Linked DNA regions of Homo sapiens: region 2 is linked to region 1. Evidence: fine-mapped expression QTL. Tissue or cell type: nasal epithelium. Region 1 holds a variant in brackets; the other region holds the start of a gene. All regions are shown on one strand. Distances are from middle to middle.

Region 1 (8,000 bases):
GAGGTCAGGAGTTTGAGATCAGCCTCTACTAAAAACACAAAAATTGGCCGGGTGTGGTGGTGCATGCCTGTAATTCCAGCTACTCGGGAGGCTGAGGCAGGAGAATCGCTTGAACCCAGGAGGCAGAGGTTGCGGTGAGGTGAGATGTGCCATTGCACTCCAGCCTGGGAGACAAGAGCGAGACTCCGTCTCAAAACAAACAAACAAACAAAGTAGTTTGCCTCAGAGGAAGAAGTCTGGCTGTGGGAAAGGTGGTCTAGATGCTACTTTTCCTGTAACCTCTTTTATATCATTTAGGTTTTAACCTCGTGCATGTATGTCTTTCTTTCTTTTTGAGACAAAAAAAAAGAAAAAGAAAAAAGATTGGCCATGCTGGTCTGGAACTCCTGACCTGGTGATCTGCCTGCCTTGGCTTCCCAAAGTGCTGGGATTACAGGGTGAGCCACCGCACCTGGCCCTCCATGTTGTTTTAAAGAATATCTTCTGGAGAGTGATCTCTCCCATTTCCAAGTGCTTGGGTCAGGTAGTGCTTGCTTGCTGTGTGCCTTGCACCGTGCCATAGCCCACATCACCCTTACCTGCAGCCACCTTGGCGAGGCTCCGAAAGGATGAAACTTACCAGAATTACTCAGTTAAGGCAGAGCTACTTCTACTTTCTAGTAGTGGAACTATTTCCACGATGTGGGCTGCCTTTCCCAGTGAGGTGGCAGCGGGAAAGGGAACATGTATCGTGTAAATGCTATGTGTAATCCCCCACCCCATATTCCTCATGATGAAAAGGACGGTGATACAGTCTGTAACCAGGCACAACTGCTGTTGGGTGGTCAGATATACATACAGGATCACACACACATATACAGGATCACACACACATATACAGGATCACACACATATACAGGATCATACACACATATACAGGATCACACACACATATACAGGATCACATACACATACAGGATCACACACACATATACGGGATCACACACACGTATACGGGATCACACACATATACGGGATCACACACACATATATGGGATCACACACATGTATACGGGATCACACACACGTATACGGGATCACACACACATATACAGGATCACACACACATATACAGGATCTTGGGACAAGGCTCTATCAGTTCTCTCCTTCAGATTTCAGTGAATATATATATATTCATTCCAACCTCCACAGAGTCCACAGGTGGCAATGACTTGAGAGGGGTTTCTCTAGTATACACAGCTCTGCCCAGGCCTCCATCTCTAGTGTGGGACCTTGCACTTGGTCCTTTGTCTTTTTATTTTTATTCTTATTTTCTACTTTTTGAATAGAGGCGGGGTCTCACCATGTCGCCAGGCTGGTCTCAAGCTCCTGGCCTCAAGTGATCCTTCTGCCTTGGCTTGCCAAAGTATTGGGATTACAGGCATGAGCCACCACGCCCAGCCAGCTCTTTGTCTCGAATGGACTCTCCCTCTAACAGCTCTTGGGTTCATTTCTTTCTTTTTCTTCCTCTTTCAAGGTTCCACCTTAGGTATGGCCTCTGGCATGGAGTGGCAGTCATTTATGTGCTGTCTGGCCTTCACTTGCCACCATCTTGTGTGGCTTATTATGCTTCAAGAGGTCTCCGTCCCCTACCCAGCTACCCTGAAACTACCAAGTAGTTTCTGGGCTCTAGGAAAGGGTGGTGGAAGGAAGGGGAAGAAAATTCACCTCATCTCACGTATTTTATCTCATTTACTCTTCACGATAACCCTATAGGGTAGGTATTCTTTTACAACATGAGGAAACTAGGCTCAAAGAGATTAATTTAACAAAGCTACAAAATGGCAGCTACAAAATGGCAGAGTCATGATGTGAACAAGAACAATCTGGCTGCGAGCCCTGTGTTTGATGCGCTATACTCGAATCTCTCCCAGGTAGCTGAGAAACTGGAGATGCTAAAGAAACAGTATGATGAGAAGCTGGCACAGAAGGAGGAGCTTCGCAAGAAGTCTGAAGAGATGGAGCTGAAGCTGGAGCGAGCTGGGATGCTCGTGTCGGGGTTGGCTGGCGAGAAGGCCAGATGGGAGGAGACAGTCCAGGTGAGATCAGCTGTACTACCTGGTGTCCTTTCACTCTGCTCGCCACTTCCGAGAGACCCATCCCTTTTAGCTTGAGGAGCAGTCAGGGAAAACGGGGACACCTGGGTATAGGGAACTCTAAGAACTGAGGCGTGGGAGCTCTTCCCCTCCCCCTGCACACCTTTGGTGAGAGCAATGGAAGGAAAGGCTTTTTGCATTATTAGGGATCTGCTTCAGTGTTTGGGCAGGGCTGGGAAGCACACACAAGGACTCTTGATGTAGCCCAACAACCAGACAGAAAACAGACACAGCACATCTTGCTTCTGCCCCTCAGTGAGCTCCTGGCTTCACAGAAAGGTTAGGCCTTATCACCAGAATGTAAACATTGCCATTAGAGATAGAGAACTCAAAAGTAATTAGAACCAGGCTAGAGTTGTCAGGACACACAGGTTTAGGGGAGGGAAAGATCCTCTTTGAACCTGACAGTGTCCAGAAGAGGGTGCCTTCAAAAGCATTCCAAGTGTCTCCCAGAGTGCTGGGGCCCAGGCAGGCTTACCCTCCCTCCTGTCCGCCAGGGCCTGGAGGAGGACCTGGGCTACCTGGTGGGGGACTGTCTCCTGGCAGCTGCCTTCCTGTCCTACATGGGACCCTTCCTGACCAACTACCGGGATGAGATTGTCAACCAAATCTGGATCGGGAAGGTGAGATGGGACTCAGGCATGACAAGTAGGCTCCGAGACCAGGGCTGGGGGCAGGACCTTTGGGAATATTAAGAGATACCGTGAAGGCGCGGGGGCTGCTGGGCTCAGCTCTTCAAGTTAAAGCATGGGGCTTTTCTCTCCCCAGATCTGGGAGCTTCAGGTTCCTTGCTCCCCTTCTTTCGCCATCGATAACTTCCTGTGCAATCCTACCAAAGTCCGGGACTGGAACATCCAAGGGTTGCCCTCAGACGCCTTCTCCACTGAGAATGGCATCATCGTCACCCGAGGCAACAGGTGAGGGTGCTGCTGGGCGTGGGGGCGGTACGGGAGCATGGGAGAGAGGGCCTCACCTCTGACCTGTACTCCCCTTCCAGGTGGGCACTGATGATCGACCCTCAGGCCCAGGCCCTGAAATGGATTAAGAACATGGAAGGAGGCCAGGTGTGAGGCTGGGGGGTCAGGTTAGCCCCCCCCTTCCTGAGGCCCCACCTCTCCCGTAGTGTTCCTTCACCTTCCCCCTTGCTCTCTAGGGCCTGAAGATCATCGACCTGCAGATGAGCGATTACCTGCGAATCCTAGAACACGCCATTCACTTTGGATACCCGGTGCTACTTCAGAACGTGCAGGAATATCTGGACCCCACACTGAACCCCATGCTCAACAAATCTGTAGCCCGAATCGGTCAGGACAAGTCCCCAAGACCAGCCAAGTGGGATGCTAGGGAGGGAAGGGCTGGCTCTCTGACTGTGTCCTCTTCTTACCTGTCCCTCCATTCAGACAGCCCTGGCCTGGGGCCTTAGGACAGGCT[G/A]AGTCGCTGCCCCTGGATGCCGGTGGGGGATGGGTTAGCTGGTACCCATCACATGGAGTCCTTGCCCCTGACCCTTCCGTGGATGCAGGTGGTCGGCTGTTGATGCGCATTGGCGATAAGGAGGTGGAATATAATACCAATTTCCGTTTCTACATCACCACCAAGCTCTCCAACCCCCACTACAGCCCAGAGACCTCAGCCAAGACCACCATCGTCAACTTTGCTGTTAAAGAACAGGTGGGTACAGGCTGAGGTCCAGACTGAGCTAGGGTGAAGCAGGAAGAGTTTGGAAGGATTGAGAAAAGGGATAAGCTTGTGTTGGGCAGCTGAGGATGAGGGGTCTTTCAAGGTGGAAAGAGATGAGGAAGGTGAAGGTCGAAGGAGTGACAGCCCCTCACTGTGAGTCCTGATGCCCCCAGGGCCTGGAGGCCCAGCTGCTGGGCATTGTGGTGCGGAAGGAGCGGCCTGAGCTGGAGGAGCAGAAGGACTCACTGGTCATCAACATCGCGGCTGGTAAAAGGAAGCTCAAGGAGCTGGAGGATGAGATCCTGCGGTGAGGCCCTGCCTTCCCCTCCCACTGCCCCACGGGTCTACTCCCAGCCAGCCTCCACCCAGTCTACCCCAGGCACAACAGCATCCCAGGGAGCCTGGTCCCGCTAACCCCTTGCTCCATGTGCCTCTGGGCCTCCCCCTAGGCTGCTGAATGAGGCCACCGGCTCCCTGCTGGATGATGTGCAGCTGGTGAACACGCTGCATACCTCCAAGATCACAGCCACAGAGGTGACTGAGCAGCTGGAGACCAGTGAGACCACAGAGATCAACACTGACTTGGCGCGGGAGGTAAGCTCCCGGCCCTCCAGTCCTGCCTCCCACCAGCCATCCAAGATGCAACTCCATCATGACGGCTCGAGACCCCTCCTTCCCTGAGCCCCTGCTCCCTGCCACGTCCCTCAGTGGCCCTGACTCCACCCATCCCCACCGGCAGGCTTACCGCCCATGCGCCCAGCGGGCATCAATCCTGTTCTTCGTGCTCAATGATATGGGCTGCATCGACCCCATGTACCAGTTCTCACTGGATGCCTACATCAGCCTCTTTATTCTCAGCATTGACAAAAGCCACCGCAGCAATAAGCTGGAGGACCGCATTGACTACCTGAATGACTACCACACCTACGCTGTCTACAGGTCTGAGGGTGCCCCCAACATGCCCCAGCCCGGAGGCCGAGTGGCTGTGGTTCTTCTGGCCACTGCACCTTCGTGCTTTCCCGCACCGCGGCTCTCAGCCTGCCGCTGTCCTTGGCATATGTCCTCCTGGTAGCTCCTCACTCTCATGGCTTAACCATCACCTGTGGGCTGATGATTCCCTGTCTTGTGTCTGTAGCCCTCCCTTGAGCACTGGACTTGTCTACACAACTGTTGGAGATACCAGCACTGCCCAGATGTTAACGGGCAGGAAGTGCACTGGCAATCTTGTGAAAGTACCGGTTGGGATTCTGCAGGTCTGGGGTGGGGCCTGGGTTCTGCAACTCCAACAAGCTCCCAGGGGTGCCACTGCTCCTGGTCTGTGGATCACATTTGAGCAGCAAGGAACTGGACTTCTCTACCCTGACATCCCACAGACCCTTCAAGCTCAACTCACTTCAGATCAAACTCATTCTCTTCCCTCTTCCTTCAGGGTCCTCATCCTTGGATGGCACCAACACCCACAACCCAGTCACCCAAGCCAGAAATTGGGAGTTATCCTTTATTTTTTATAATTTTTATTTGTACAGAAAGGGTCTCCCTATGTTGCCCTGGCTCGTCTCAAACTCCTGAGCTCAAGGGATCCTCCTGCCATGGTCTCCCACAGTGTTGGGATTACAGGCATGAGCCACCACGCCTGGCAAAAACTGGGAGTTATCCTTGACTCTTCCCTTTCAAAGCAGTCACCAGGTTTTGTTCATGAATATTTCTGCAACTGTTCCCTCCCCATCTTCCCACTGCTTGGCTGTACTTTAGTTCTGGCCCTGGTGATCCTTTTTTCTGAGTTGCACAATGGTCTCCTAGAGGTCCTTCTGCCTCTACCCACTGTCCCTCTCAACCCACCCTCCTGTATTGCCCACCTGAACAAATCTGCCCATGCCGCTTCCCGGGTCTGACTGCCAGTGGTTGGTTGCTTGGCCCCTGTGGCCCACGAAAGCCCTCAGGACCTGGCCTTCTCCTGCCTCAGCCTCACCTTTCCCACCTTGCACTGGGGGCCTGAGCGTCCCTGACTGCCCTGCATGCTGTGCCCTTCTCATGCTTTTGCTCATGCTGTGATCTCTCTGCCTCTCCCATGTCACCTGAAAACTCTACTGCAGCTTGGGGCAGCTCCTCGGAAACTTTCCAAGTCCAGCAGGCAGGGACATCATAACTGATGGCCTCTCTGTCCTCTCCGAGACTGTGGCTTATTCATCTTTGTGTCTTCAGGACCTAGCAGAGTGCCTGGCAAGACAGTAGGGGAATAATGAATGTTTTGTTTTTTAATGGAACTGAATGACTAATTATGAGTGAATGGCTGGGCACGTTGGCTCACACCTGTAATCCCAGCACTTTGGAAAGCTGAGACGGGTGGATCACCTGAAGTCAGGAGTTCAAGACCAGACTGCCAACATGGTGAAACCCCATCTCTACTAAAAATACAAAAATTAGCCAGGCGTGGTGATGGGCTCCTGTAATCCCAGCTGCTTGGGAGCCTGACGCAGGAGAATCGCTTGAACCTGGGAGGTGGAGGTTGCAGTGTGTCGAGATCGTACCATGGTACTCCAGCCTAGGTGACAAGAGCGAAACTCTGTCTCAAAAAGTAATAATAATAATAAGTGGACTCTGGGAAATTCTTGTGTCTAGGCCCCTGAGTCCTCAGCTGTTTCCAGGAGGTTAGGATTAGAGGCTGGTGAGGTCCTCTGTGTGAAGCTGTGTGATAGTAGCATCATAGCATTCGCATGGAGCATCAGCCCCCATTCCATGCTGCCCCTCCCTCTTCCCTGTCCCTTTCTCCCAGGTACACCTGCCGTACCCTTTTCGAACGCCACAAACTACTATTCAGTTTTCATATGTGTGCCAAAATCTTGGAGACTTCTGGCAAGCTCAACATGGATGAATACAACTTCTTTCTACGTGGGGGTGTGGTGAGTTGGGCAGAGAGCACATCCCAGGATGGGATGGTCAAGGTTGGGGATGAGGGCAAGTGTGACAAGGACTCCAGACCCAGAGGGTCAGGCCCACAGCATCAGTGAGTGAGCTGAGAAAATCCAGGCCAGCATCAGGTGCATGGTGAGCTCCCTGGGGCTGCGGAGGTGACTTGCCATGCACCCCCTTGCACTCAGCGCAGGCTGGGCTTTGTGGCATGTCTCACCTGTGACCCACAAACTGGCCTGATCTTGCCGCTTTTTTACTGCCTTTCAAGGCACTCCTTCCCCAGCCTGAGTTCCATGGTCGCCCTCACAATCTCTCCCTCACAGGCTCCTCAACCCCAGCTTTTCTCCTCTCTCTGTCGCATCTACCGCTCTGGCTAGATCCAGCTCCTCTTCCCCTCTGTCCCTGCGCGGCCAGTGCACTGAGCATGGCCGGAGAAGAACACATCCACACCGACTGGACGCGCTTTAAGTCCATGATCGTGAACCTCAAGGAGGCCCCTAAGGCTTCCAGACAACCATGCTGCACTCTCCCGCCCTCCTAGACATTTTCTTGACTTTTCCCACCTTCACTTCCTGCCTCCCACCCCAAACTCTCAACACAGCAACCAGAGAGGTCCCACTCTGTCACTCACTGTGGCTGGACCGCAGTGGCAGTGATCTTGGCTTACTGCAGCCTCGACCTCCCAGGCTCAAGCCATCCTCGCATCTTAGCCTCTGGAGTAGCTGGGACTACAGGCCTGCGCCACCACGCCCGGCTAATTTTTGTATTTTTTGTAGAGGCGGGGTCCCACCATGTTGCCCAGGCTGGTCTCGAACTCCTGGGCTCAAGTGATCCTCCCACCTCAGCCTCCCAAAGTGCTGGGATTATAGGTGTGAGCCACTGTGCCCGGCCTGAGAGGTCCTTTTAAAGTGGATGCCATTGTGACGGGCTCCCCATGGCTGGCGCCACCTCCCACCACACAGCCCCCACTCCACTCCAGCCACGCAGGCCTCATTGCCCTCCCCAAACCCCCTGGCACGTCTCGCCTCAGGGCCTTTGCGTGGCCATGCCTTCTGCTGGAAGCCTACTCCCCGGCGTGTGCACCTGGCCATCTCTCACCTCCTTCAGACCTCACCTCAATGCGACCTTGATCTTCTTATTTAATACTTCAAACTACCCCTCAACACTCTCAGTCTCCCTTACCCTCCTCAGAGTATCCTATTTTTCCTTGGCACTGCCGTCTTTGCTATACTAGATAATTTACTTATTTGTTATGTTTTTGGTTCATAATCTGCCCAT
Region 2 (8,000 bases), 100 kb before region 1:
AGCTAAGTTTTGTATTTTTAGTAGGGTCGGGGTTTCAACATGTTGGCCAGGCTGGTCTCGAACTCCTGACCTTAGGTGCTCAGCCCACCTTGGCCTCCCAAAGTGCTGGGATGACAGGCATGAGCCACCGCACCCGGCCTGGAGCTGCTTTAGATGAGGAGGTCAGGAAGGTCCCTTTGAAAGAGATGCCCTTGATCAGGACCTTAAGTCATGAGACAGGAGTAAGCCATGCACACTGGGGACGGGCATGCTAGACAGAGGAACAGCAAGTGCACGGGCACAGAGGTGAGATTGTGGTGTGTTTGGGAACAGTAAGAAGGACATCACCACCACATGCATGTTTCGGATGTGTCCTGTTCTTCCCTAGCCTCGGCCTGGAGGGGAGTAAGTCACTTAGGGTCTTGGATCCACATTAAGGAAGTTGATCTCACTCAGTCTCCCATCCCCTTGCCTTTTGTTTCTTGTGTGTCTGTGACTTGTGTTTTCCTCGTCTAAATTTTAAGCTCTGGGAGGGCAAGGATGATGCTCTGAGCTTTTTTGGGGGCTGTGGCACAGCTGCTGGCAGAGTCCAGAGCAGGAAGGCAGAGCGGAAGTAAAGGAACCGAGAGGGCTGGGACCACAGAAGCTAGAGCTGTCGCCCTGCCATCCCCAAACCGCATAGGATTGAGGCTGTCTTGGGGCTGAGCTGTAGAGTGAAGCTCAGGCTTTGCCCTCCTTCCAAATAACGGCAGCTGAGGGATACTATTCAGCCCGAGGTGCGTGTGTGTGTGCGTGTGTGTGTGTGTGTGTGTGTGTGTGTGTTGGGGGTTTTTAGGGAAAGGGGAATGGGGCAAGGAGTGGCAGTGGGAATTTCTTTTCTTTTTCTTTTCTTTTTTTTTTTTTTTGAGACAGTCTCGCTCTGTGGCCCAGGCTGGAGTGCAGTGGTGCAATTCTCGTGCCTCAGCCTCCCGAGTAGCTGGGACTACAGGCATGTGCCACCACGCCCGGCTAATTTTTTGTATTTTTAGTAGAGATGGGGTTTCACCACATTGGCCAGGCTGGTCTTGAACTCCCGACCTCAGGTGATCCACCCACCTCAGCTTCCCAAAGTGCTGGAATTACAGATGTGAGCCACTGTGCCTGGCCTTGCAGTGGGAATTTCTGATGCGGAATGGTTGACATCATATCTGGAATTTTAATTAGAATGAAAAATGGCCCTTCCTAAGGGGCTATATGGGCCACCGTGGACATGGGGCTTGGGAGAGTTTTGAGACCTGGGAGAAATGTCACACGGTGGTTTGGAGGCAGGAGGCTGTCTGGCATAGGCTCAGAGTTGGGTGGGGGAAGGAAAAGGGACACAGAATGAATGGGAATGACAACTGGGCAGCCAGAGAGCTACTTGAAAGGTAGCAGGGAAAGTGGAGTTCTGAAGGGAGTTCTGAGGGGACCAGGCCCCAGGTACCCCAATTCCCACAGGGAATCGAAGTGTTCAGTTTTCTGGTTCTCCCTCTTCCTCCAGTTGCCATCAGAAACTCAGGCACCGCAACCCCAGTGGCTGGCGGGGTGATGTCGGGGGGAGACTGAGCTGCTTCAGGGGGTAGCAGCTGGTGAGTTGGGAGGAATCTGTGTGCTCAGCAAACAGCAGCCTCAGTGCCCGGTGGCTGCCTCCTCCCTCATCAATCAGCCCCAGCCAAATGTCCTTGCATTCCCACCACCCCAAGGGGACTGGGGCTGGGCCAGGGTCCCCAGGGGAGATGGGGATGGGTGGGGGGAGGTGAAGGGGGGTGCTTGGCTTCCTTTCCCTTGGCCTCTGTTCTCTTCTGTCCTGGAAGCTCTCAGTTCTTCATGTCATGGAATGACTATCCTGGCCCCTACCATCGTGGGGGCATCAGCTACAAATCACCTGTGGGGGGCTGCTGGGGGAGAAGGATGAGTCAGGCTGTAGAGTAATCTACTCTGGTTCTCACGGGACCAGCCCAGGGCACAGCCGGCAGGGAGGCTGCTGGCATAGAGGCCCTGTCTCCCCTGGCCTCTGTCTCTGATGAATGATCCGGACAGCAGGCCGAGACCCTGACCCCTGGAATGGACCTCTCTTTCCACCTTCTCCTAGCCCCCAGTCCTCATCCCCTGCTTCCAGCCAAGATCCAGAGGTCTGGCCCCCAGCTCACCCCAAATCTGCTGTTCCCCACTAGGGACTGGGGTCTCTAGACCTTAGCCTCTGGCTCCCTTTCCCCCTCCTCAGCCTTTGCTCCCCTCCGGGACCCAGGCGTCCTGCCCACTCCCTTCACCATAACAACCATTCTTTTGGAGTTGCTTAAGACTTTAATATCATTTCATTAAGTCAGCAAGTTCAGAGAAGGTTGGGGGCACAAAGAGACTGGGGGTGGGCAAAAGAGGGCCAAAGTAGGGGGGAGGCAAGGAAAGATCCCCCACCCCCCTCTCCGTGGAGATGGCTCTGAGAAATCAAATATTGACAATGAGGGAACAGAACTTATTAAATCTGGGACAGGGATGTGTGTGGGGAGCTGTGGGAATGGCCGGATGCCTGGGTTCGGAGGGTAATGAAGGTTCTGGGAGGAGGAAAAGGGCCGTGGCTGGGAGGTGCAGCAAGGCTGAGGCTCGAGGTCACAACTCTTCTGCCCTTTCCTTTGGGATGTACACGGTCTTGCAACCCTGGCTGTTTCTCTAGCCCCGAAGAGCCCCTGGGGAAAAGACCCCCATCATAGCTAGCTGTGGTTGCCCCGCCTTCGTCCCTTCCCCCTACCTCCACCTCTGTTGATGAGCTTCAGCAGCGTTTAATCGGATTGAGCAGTAATTAGCAAAGCGAGATGTTTGATTACCTATTTAGCATAATGTGGGGGGCTGGGATCCGTAGGCACAGCCACAGTTGGGGAGGGGGGTTTAAGAAAAGAAATGGGGTCTGTGCAAAGTTCCTTTCCCCGAGGGACCCATGAACCTTGCCCCTGAGGCTCCCCACCCCACGCCTCCAGCAAATTTTCACTCCTTTGGGACTTTTCCCTAGGGGTTCTGGCCAACCACATCACCTCTGTCTGCCACCCATGGCCTATCTGGCTAGAGGAACACCTCCACGTTCCATCTTAGCTGTGCTAGCTGTGCAGCTGGTTTTGGGGTGGGCGGTACTCCTCTCCTTCCATTCCTGCTGTCAGCAACAGGAGTCTGGCTGGGCAGGAGGAATTATTGGGGGTCGGGGGGAGGGAAAGGGTTGACACTTCTGGGAATAAAGATACGGTAGGTGGGAGGGTGAGGTCAGCGCTGGGATAGGGTGTGGTTAATCCACTTGCTCTTCAGGAGTACCAGGGACTGCCACTCCTGGTAGTGCCAGGCTGGCATAATGAGATCTGTTAGGTGTGAACGCCAAACAGAAAATGGGGGAACTGAGGTGCCAGCTTCTCTTCTCCTCATCCAGCAAAGAAAATGTCATAAATTTCGCTCCTCATGGAAATGTAATCAGTGGGCTCGCTGCTGGCTTTGTCTTAATTAGGCACTATTGATGGAAACAGGGAGGGCGCCTTCCCATCCCCCCACTCGGCTTCCTCCCTGTATTTCCCAGGTCTCCCCAAAGCTCCTCCCGGCACCAGGTACAGCGGTCTTCCAGGCGCCTTCTAGCAGCCCCGGCCCGCAGCGCCCCCTGGCACCCTCGGAGATGTACCCCGGCCCTCATAGCCCTCCCCTCTCGCCTCCTCTCTCACGACGCAGCCTTTGTTCCTATGGAGAGCGAAGCCCCTCCCAGGCCCGGTCACCTTCCCCAGGGAGTCCCCGCCTCTCATCCCCCCCAAAAACCAGCGATGCCTTCGAAAGCCAATCCTCAGATTCCCAAAACTCCAGTTCCCGTCTTCCCTCCCTTTCCCCGCCCCGCGCCGCCCCCCCGCAATCCTAGACCCCAATCCGAACTAAGAAGGGGGAAGGAGCAGGAGGGCAAGGGTGCTCCAGGCCCGGTTTTTCCCCCGGATCCAGCTGCACCCACGGCTGCCTGGAAATCCTGGAACGCCTTCTACATCGCGAATATCCCTCGCCGGCCTGGCGCCCGGCGCCATCTGCTGGACCCGTTCCGGCTGGGGCGCACAGACCTGGGCGCGGGGTCGGGCGATTGGGTTCTCCCTGCCTTTTCAATGTCCTGCGGGGCGGTGGCTCACTGTCTCTCGCCCCAGCCCTTCCAGCTGGGTCCTGACACCAGGCCCCCCGCACCCTTCGGCTCGCCAGATGTGGCTACTTTCCTTTAGTCCCGGAGCCTTCAAGCCCTGGGTCCCTGAGGGGTAGACCTGGGCGGGGTGGGGCCGCGAAGCAGGGATCCAGGGCGCCTGCGCGGAGGAGGCGGGCTCCGAGGGGCCGCACACCGGCCACTCGCCCCTCCCTGCCCGGGGTTGCCATGGGGACGCGTGCAGACGCCGGCCCGAGAGGGCTGCGAGGGGCAACTTCTTAGAGTGGCCCATCGGTCGGTCTAGGGAGGGGAGGGTCAGCGTGGCAAGGTGTGTGTCGGGGGCAGAGGGAAGGAGGGAAGGAGTGCTGGGGAGAAGGGGCAGTAGTGTCGGGGTAGGAAGGGACAGTTGTTGGGGAGAAGAGGCAGTTGTGGAGGGAGAGGGAGCAAGGAATATTTGTGTGGGGGAGGGGGAGGAGAAGGGGCAGTTGTGACAGCTGGGGGGGAAGAGCCATTCTGAGGGGAAATTTGCCTGCTGGTAACCAGTTTAAGGATACCAGCTGCTGGTATAAATACTGCTGGATAAATACTGCTGGATTTATACTGCAGGATAAATACTGCTGGCCCCTGCGGTATTTCCTAGTACTAGAGTGAGCCCCGACTTAGCAGAGCAGTTCCTCCTGGGGCCTGCGGTGTGGGATCGCGTGGTGAACCCCACGGTGCATGCGCCTCAGGCTCTAGTTTGAGGCAGGAAAGCGCAGCTTGATGCTTCTCTGGAGACTGATGGAGGAAGCCTCCTTGCTGTAGTTGGTTTTATTGATTTGCTGGCCTAACAGAACGTTTTTCCTTGGAGCAAAGTACAAATCCTTCAAGTTTGAAATTCATAACCTGAGATCAATGCCTGTGGCAGCCTGTGGGGATGAGGAAGGAGAGCCACAGGTGCCGTTAGGCTGCAGCCTAATGAAAAGAGAGTGCCCAGCGCCTCAGACTTTGCGCCTGGGATTCTGAGCACCTGTCCGAGATCCCCGCTTCCTGCCATCCTACCTTTCTGAGAGAGGCACCACTGTGACCTTCCTCGTGCCCCAATTGCTTTTTCCTCATGACACAATTTGAAATTTATGATTGGATGACTTTTGTCCTTCTTTCTTCCAATCTGTTCTCAGGGCATTTTGAGTCAAATAAATGATCCTGACTGATCTTAACCATTAGCACAGAGTTCCTCAGCCAACTCTGCTAAGAGACCTCAGTACACACAAAACAGTGTTCCTGCCCCTCAGGACTTCAAAGCGATAGACCCAGGTGGCAAATACTGTTTTTCTCTGTTTACAGATGTTGCAGATTTTAGTGGGATTGGGAGGAGCATATTTCCATTTAACTTGGGAGGAAAAGAGGTACATAGGAAAATCATCTTGGTTTGCTTGAATGATTGAACAGTGACAAAGGATGGGGGATGTGCACCCCTTCCTTGATCCTCTCTCACTCACTCATGGTCCTGGAGGGTAGAGTGGATGAGGGTTTGGGCAACCACACTTCAGCTTGATAGATCTTTTCCTGATTATCTTATGTTCTCATACCCCGGGGCAGAGATAGAGGTTCTAAATCCTCATTAGTGGGGTGTCTGGCCATCTTTTTTTTTTTTTTTTTTGAGATAGAGTCTCACTCTGTCAGCCAGGCTGGAGTATAGTAGCATGATCTTGGCTCACTGCAGCCTCTACCTCTCGGGTTCAAGAGATTCTCCTGCCTCAGCCTCCCGAGTAGCTGGAATTACAGGCACGCACCACCACTCCTGGCTAATTTTTTGTATTTTTAGTAGAGACGGGGTTTTGCCATGTTGGCCAGGCTGGTCTCGAACTCCTGACCTCAGGTGATCCACCCGGCTCGGCCTCCCAAAATGCTGGGATTACAAGCATGAGCCACCGCACCCAGCCTGGCCATCATCTTTAACTCCCATTTGTTCCTAGTGCCTTGAGGGACTGACTTTGATTTTTAGCCCAGTGCCCCGAAGACAGTAGGATATCCTAGGGAAAAACAGCAAGGCCTCCCAGGCCCCTGTGGAGTACAGAGCCCTTGTGGTTAATGGAGCAGGGTGTGGGTACCACCAGAAAAGATGATCATATTGAGTTTCAGTCAATTTATGAATTCAAAAGGGACTGCTTGTATCAGGGGGCTGGTTCAGGGGTGGTATCTGCTTGTAGACTCTCCACTCCTGTATACCTGTAGGTTTTGCCTGCACGATGTCCAGCAAAGCTGAGAAGAAGCAGCGATTGAGTGGCCGAGGAAGCTCCCAGGCAAGCTGGTCAGGGCGGGCCACTCGGGCTGCTGTGGCCACACAGGAGCAGGGGAATGCCCCGGCTGTCAGTGAGCCAGAGCTGCAGGCTGAGCTCCCCAAGGAGGAGCCTGGTGGGTACTTGCTGGGGCAGAGGATGCTTAGCAATGGAGGGTGGGGAAAGTCAGAGGGGCTTGGAGGCATTTTAGGGCTGGGGAGCAGGCGCTGTTGCTTCTGGGCAGGAAACGGGCTAAGTGACGCCCCCAGCCATGGAGGTTCAGCAGCCCTGCCACTGAGTCCTTTTTTTGTATGTCTTCCTCCTGGCCAGCCTCATCCTTGTTCTTTCTGTCTTAAAATTTCCCACAATATACCAGGAGTTCACCAACCAGTCCTTTCTCTAGCCTCTTCCTCCTTATTTCAAGTGTTCCTGGTTGCTCCTACCCCACTGAAGAGGGTTTGATCTCTTCCTTTTTCCCATTTTCACCCTGGGTGGCAAAACAAATAATGTTTTTCTCCCATTAAGCCCATCACCATGGAGACTCAGCCTGTTTTGCCACCCTTTGAATCCAAAGCCCGGCTGATGCTTTCTACCATCTGTTGAGGGCTGTTCTATCTCCGCCCTCATTTTGGCAGGGACTTGGTAGACTGCGGAGGTTCAGGTTCAGGATGACAGGAAAGAAGTCTAGATCTAGGGAGGAAAGAGTTTAACGAGGCAGCCTCTTGTGGCTTTGACCTGAGGGATTCCTTTCCTGTGGGTGAGCCGGAGCCAGTAAGGTTGGAAGGTTTTTGGTAGTTGTTGCTATTGCTGGGATCTCCCTGAGAGCACTGGTCAGTGTAGACAGGACTATGAGCTAAGTGTAGACCTCCTTCTTTACCTGGAGCTCCTTTACACTGATAGTAGCTTGTGAAATAGAATCCCCTTCTAAAATTAAAGGTTGAGAGGTTAAGCGTGGGCATGGGAGAAAAGTCCCTGGGCCATAAGAACTTGCATTAGGTTCCAGGATCTTAGAAATGTGCAGAATGTATCCTTCTGAGTTCTGAAGTGCTCAGGTGAAAGCAGTTAAAATGGGATTGCTCGCTGCTAGGAGGAGTAGGGGAAGATGGGAGGGAAGACAGTGAGGTTCAGTATGGAGAATCCTCTGGGGAGGTAAGGGAAGGAGCTTTAAAATGAATGTGTTGGCCTTCGAACAGCAAGGATTTCTGCCTCTCCCAGCTCCAAGCTTTCTTTTCTTTCTTTCTTTTTTTTTTTTTTTTTTTTTTGAGACAAATTCTCACTCTGTCTCCCAGCCTGGAGTGCATTGGCATAATCTCAGCTCACTGCAACCTCTGCCTCCCGGGCTCAAGTGATTCTTGTGCCTCAGCCTCCCAAGTAGCTGGGATTACAGGCATACACCACCATGCCCAGCTTATTTTTTTTATTTTTTTGAGACAGAGTCTCTCTCAGTTGCCAAGGCTAGAGTGCAGTGGTGCGATCTCAGTTCACTGCAACCTCCACCTCCTGGGTTCAAGCGATTCTCCTGCCTCAGCCTCCTGAGTAGCTGGGATTACAGGCGTGTGCCACCACACCCGGCTAATTTTTGTATTTTTAGTAGAGATGGG

The links. PIP is the estimated chance that this variant, and not a neighbour inherited with it, causes the effect.
Region 2: it holds the start of DNAH2, and the variant in region 1 is fine-mapped to the expression of DNAH2 in nasal epithelium (TOPMed, PIP above 0.99). The same link has a PIP of 0.9 or more in testis.

What each region holds. Positions count from the first base shown.
Region 1 is chr17:7,814,658-7,822,657 of GRCh38, forward strand. It overlaps DNAH2 (dynein axonemal heavy chain 2), which reads left to right. Exons shown (of 86, transcript NM_020877.5): 64 at 1,914-2,078; 65 at 2,633-2,758; 66 at 2,904-3,052; 67 at 3,133-3,199; 68 at 3,289-3,439; 69 at 3,655-3,803; 70 at 3,986-4,119; 71 at 4,262-4,406; 72 at 4,552-4,751; 73 at 6,586-6,712. Among named protein-coding and RNA genes, the nearest start is that of KDM6B, 16 kb to the right of the region's middle. The variant G/A (reference allele first, on the strand shown) is at 3,567.
Region 2 is chr17:7,713,366-7,721,365 of GRCh38, forward strand. DNAH2 (dynein axonemal heavy chain 2) reads left to right here and starts at 4,379. Exons shown (of 86, transcript NM_020877.5): 1 at 4,379-5,434; 2 at 6,356-6,535. The coding sequence starts at 6,370.